Linked DNA regions of Homo sapiens: region 2 is linked to region 1. A link means that fine-mapping ties the variant in region 1 to the expression of a gene that starts in the linked region. Tissue or cell type: testis. Region 1 holds a variant in brackets; the other region holds the start of a gene. All regions are shown on one strand. Distances are from middle to middle.

Region 1 (2,681 bases):
GACAGGGGCTCCGTAGGTGACACTGTCACCTCCTGCAGCTGTCCCCCACCCCCTAGCCTGGCTTGAAGCCAGGAAGATGGAGGGAGGGGGGAAGGGGTGCACCCTCAGGATACCCAGCCTGCTTAGCTCCTTGGAGGCGGCAGCAGGAACCCACCTCCCTGCTGTGGCTGTCCCACCTGGCCACCATCAGATGCCCTCTGCTATTGATCAAGTTGGGTGCTTATGTGGTCATGTTTACCAACCCCTGGAGGGCACTGGGCCATGGAACCCTTACCCTATATTGACTGAAGAAAAGATCAAGCTTTTAGAAAATCAAAGTCAATTTTTTTTTTTTGAGACGAAGTCTCACTCTTCTTGCCCAGGCTGGAGTGCAATGTCGTGATCTCGGCTCAATGCAACCTCTGCCTCCCGGGTTCAAGCGATTCTCCTGCCTCAGCCTCCTGAGTAGCTGGGACTACAGGCATACGCCACCACACCTGGCTAATTTTGCATTTTTAGCAGAGACGGAGTTTCTCCATGTTGGTCAGGCTGGTCTGGAACTCCTGACCTCCGGTGATCAGCCGGCCTAGGCCTCCCAAAGTGCTAGGATTACAGGCGTGAGCCACCGCGCCCGGCCGAAAGTCAGTTTTATGTAGAAGCTTGACTGAGGACTATAGACTGAGGCCTGTAGCCAGGAGCAGCCCTTTAGAGAGGCTCTATCAGGCCGTTCCTGCACAGCATTTCAGCCCATGGCTTATATACAGGTGGTGGAGGATTAATGTGTGCAAATCCACATTAAACTTGTTCAGAAGTTACATTACAGCAGAGTCACACCTAGGTTTGGGTGTGGAAGTGCATGTGCTTAGCAGAAGCACTAAACCCAGCAGACATTATCTTAATGTGTGGGAAAAGGCAAGGACTGGGGTTATTTCACTTCTAAAAAATAGTGACTCCGGTCAGAGATGTGGGAGCCTTGTGATCTAGCCTGCTTTGCCTTCAAAACATCTTTCTGGAGAGCTACACTTTATGCTGACAAGCCAAAATGAGCAAACATGGCTTCTTAGGTTTGTTACTTTGTCTCACAAGTTCCCTCTTTTGCTCATAATCAACTATTAGTTGCATTTACAAGACAAACACTGATTGTCTTATGTAGCCAGGAAGACTCTTGCGTAGGAAGGCAGGGAAGCTTCAGTGGTAGTTGTATC[G/C]GGCTCAGCATGCATACTTGGCTATTTTGCAAAAAACACACTTCAGATTGCATCTACTTTTAACTAGCATGATCTGGGGTTTTTTTGTTGTTGTTGTTCTTTGTGACATTGCCTTTTCCTGTACCTAACACAATACCTCAGCAGGAGGACTATTACAAGGATATTACAGATTATAGGTAGCAATACATATTTAATAGCATTAAAGTGAGTTACAGATTGTAAAACCCACGATAACCATTTAACAAAACTGGAACATACATTTGAATAGTTTTTTTTTAATCGATTGTAATATTTTTCCCCTTTTGGTACCCATATTTAGTATAGTCTTTTTATGAAAAACAATTTTGGACTAGAGCTGATTGCAAGTGTTTTTGTTTTTGTTTTTGAGACAGGATCTCACTCTGCCACCCAGGCTGGAGTACAGTGGCATCATCATCACGGCTCACTGCAGGCTCAACCTCCAGGGCTCAAGCGATCCTCCCACCTGAGCCCCCTGAGTAGCTAAGACTACAGGCTCACATCATCACACCTGGATAATTTTTTAATTTTTTTTAGACACCAGGTCTCACTATGTTGTCCAGGCTGGTCTTGAATTCCTGAACTCAAGCAATCCTCCCACCTCAGCCTCCCAAAGTGTTGGGATTATAGGCGTGAGACACTGCACTCACCCTGCAAATGTTTTTACAGAATAATTTATAACAATAACTGTGGATAATAAAACTTAGAATAGCCTTGGTTAAAATCTGATGAAAGTTTTTAATTGACAGGGAAATTTAGTTATTTCTATTTCACACAGCATTTTATGATAACAACCAGAATTATGACTGATGGTGTCACATCAGGGCCATTAGATGTTTATAAATTTTATATAATCTTTGGAACACTTATATTAACAACATATCCACACACATATAACTTACAAACAATTTAATATAACAATCAAAATTATTACTGATAACATTAGATTTTTATGAATTTATATTATTTTTGGAACATTTATATCAATAACATACCCATAAATGTAACTGAAAAAAGATCTAGTATCATTTATCATTTGACAATGCCTCCCATACAATTTACCAAACAATTTAAATCATTTAATATCTGCACAGGATGAGAGATATATTTTGCGGGAGTTTCCAGGGACACACTGGAAAATCCCATTTTTGGCCATTTTAATGTGAAATCTCCTTTGGTAAAGTCCTCCCATCCAAGGAGACACTTGCCAGTGTAAGCTCCATGTGTGTTATACACAAAGCCTGCTGGAGTGCTGACTGGAGGTTGGTTGTTCAATGACCCTGTTGTTTCAGTTTTGGATGATTTATTTTCCATTGTGAGAGCTCAGCAAAGCAGGACTGCTATTGAGAAACGTAGTGGGGAGATGAGCAGCTTTGGCTGGGCACAGTGGCTCACCGCTGTAATCCCAGCACTTTGGGAGGCTGAGGTAGGAATATCACTTGAGCCCAGGAGTTCAGGACCAGCCTGGGTAATATAGTG
Region 2 (2,681 bases), 220 kb before region 1:
CGCCTGGCACTGCTGACGCAGCAGAGGCAGAGGTGTGTTTACTTTCCCTCAGTGGAGGTGACGGGGAGCTGCCACTCTATCAGGGGTTCCACAGGCCCCTGCCATGGTAAGGGGCCTCCATCGATTAGGGAGGCCTTGGGGTAGCCCCCAGAAGGCTCCCCACATACTGCTCCAGGCCTCCTTTTCCTAGCCTTGCGACTGAGCCCAGCTCAAGAGGACTCAGCCATGCTCTCTAACCTCCTAAGGTCTGAGGTCACTGCACAGCCCCAAATGAGTGGGTCCTGGGCAAATAGTTTAGGCAGGTGGAGACCTGACGCTGGGCCTCAACCCCCGCAGCCGAGGGTCCCAGAGGAGGGCAAAGGTTGCTCCTCCTAGAACAGCACAGTGCAGCGCCCAGAGAGCTGTGAGGGAAGCTGGCATTCGAACCCCACTGCCCCCTGGGAAGCCTGGCTAACCGAAGCGCAGGCTTTGGTTTCCATAAATACCCGGGCCCGTGATGTCACCGCCCCGTGCAGACTTTCACAGCCTCTGCTGCTGGCGTGAGGCCCAGCACACAGCCGCTCTGCTGCCAGCCCACAGAACACCTGGGCACACAGCTGGACACTGATGCCTCCGTGCTAGGGACGGTGGGCTGGACCTTCACCTGCCCTTGGAGGACGCAGCATCCTGGCCACTGCCTCAGCCTGCCTGCGACCTTCTATCAGGCATGGCTGAAGGGCTGGCCATGGGCGTGCTGGGCAGAGATTCTCTTCCTAAACAGGCTATGGGCTAAACCAAAGCCAAAACAGTAGGAGCCGGTCTGGGCACCCTGAATGTGGATCTGGGAGGGGGGATACCTGCTCTCACAGTTGGGAATTTCACAGCCTGCTGAAGACCTGCTGACTAATAGCCTTTTTCTCATCGTCATCACCAACAAACACCTCCGCTGCAGGGGCCGAGCGCCGGCATCCCTGCTGGGTGGCCAGCTCCCTCTGCAAGTCACCTGCACATCCACCTGCCCCTCCCCCAACGATGCCCCTCACTCCAGCTCCCAGCTCAGCCGGGCCCCTCTGGCCTCTGGCTTCAGGCAGAAACCTGCCACATATACTCACAAATAGCGTCTTCTGCAAGCCATCCTGTGTGAATCCGTTCTTCCCTGTTCTGGCTCCCTCTCCAGCGGGGAGGCTCAACGTGTTTCCAAGAGGAGCAGGCGGCTCAGGCAAGAAGTGGAGGGGAATAAAATTAAATCGCGGGGCGAGTCACATTCCCGGGGGTGGCGGGCTCCTCCAGGGAGGCTGGGGCGGGAGCGGGGGGCGGCGCCAGCAGCGGGCTGTGGAGGGCCCTGGCACGTAGCGCGCGCTCACACCGTGCCCAGGAGCGAGCGAGGACGTCGAGTAACCGTGGTCGCCAGGCTGGGCGGGGGCGTCCACCTCGCTGCTACCTGGGCCCACCTTGGGGTTTTTCCCTCCCGTCCATCCGGGGTGCGGGGCGCGGGGATGAGGAGGGGAGGGTCGAGAGAAGGCTGCCCCGGGTTTGCTCTCGCAGCATCCGGAGAAGGGGCGGGCGCGCCGGAGCCTCCCCCACCCCCCGCGCCCAAGGAGCAACGTAGTGCGGCCGCGCCGGACCAATCGCCGAGGCGCTGGTCGCCATGGCAACAGCAGCATCAGGCGCGGCCGCTCGGCTGCGCCCTCGCGGCAAAGTCACACACCCGGCGGGGCGCGGGGCGCCGGCCCCTTCCTGGCCCGCGCTGGAAACCTGGAAGTCTGTTGCTAAAATGCACGCGCCGCGCGGAGCCTACGATGACACTACTTTCCAAGGCGGCTTTTCTGCCTTCGGCACTGAGACACGCGAGCCGCGGAGCTCTCGGGGCTCTGGCCCTGGAGTGAGGCCGGCCGACTCCAAGGCTGTCTCTGCCACTGAAGGGCGATGAGACCTTGGCAAGCCGCGTCTCTCCTGGGAGTCTTGATTATGCTACTGTGAAAGGGATCATAACAGCTATACCACGGGGTTCCAGGAGGGCGCACCACGCCAGTAGCTGCACGGTGGATGGCAGAGCAGTCCTCGTTTGTGCCAGTCCTGTCCCAAAGGGGGCTGCACGTGGCTAGGGAGAATTTCTGGTCTAGCTATGGTGCCTCTTCCTCTCCCGAGGACCTTCCATGTGCCGGGCAAGTATCTGCCCTCATGATGTTTACAGTCTAAGGGGAAGCCAGGAAGTAAGTGTGCAGATATAGGATTGCACGTGGTGATAAGGATCAGGATGAAAAGAGAGCAGGAAGAGGGGAGGCAGGGACCCCAAGAGAGGCGGGAAGGAGGCTTCTGCCATCAGACGGGGTGGTCGGGAAGGCCCTCTGTGAGGCACGTGTGGCTGAGACTCGGATGACGCAAGAAGCAGGGGAGGAGCTGGCGTCAAGGCTCTGAGGCGGAAGGCAGCCTGGTGTATTTGACTGGCCCAGAGGAGGCCAGCGTGGTGCAGTGTGCGACAGGGAGGTGGAGGGGAGAAGCGCACATCCATCCTCGGCTCCCACACCCGCCTTTCCCACACAGATTTCTCTCTTCCTGTCTGATGTTCATCTGATCCTCTCTGCTTCCTCATCTGTAAACCAGGAATCCCAGACCTATCTCAGAGGCATGTAGATAATATTCTTCCGTGCACGGTAATCCTCAAGACAACCCCAATGAGGCCTAATACTATCATCCTACTT

Evidence for each region. PIP is the estimated chance that this variant, and not a neighbour inherited with it, causes the effect.
Region 2: IQSEC1 starts here. The variant in region 1 is fine-mapped to the expression of IQSEC1 in testis (GTEx, PIP above 0.99).

What each region holds. Positions count from the first base shown.
Region 1 is chr3:13,290,098-13,292,778 of GRCh38, forward strand. No RefSeq gene overlaps it. Among named protein-coding and RNA genes, the nearest start is that of NUP210, 130 kb to the right of the region's middle. The variant G/C (reference allele first, on the strand shown) is at 1,185.
Region 2 is chr3:13,071,901-13,074,581 of GRCh38, forward strand. It overlaps IQSEC1 (IQ motif and Sec7 domain ArfGEF 1), which reads right to left and starts at 1,529. Exons shown (of 14, transcript NM_001134382.3): 1 at 1,092-1,529. The coding sequence starts at 1,114. RefSeq lists silencers at 1,445-1,604, 1,725-1,904.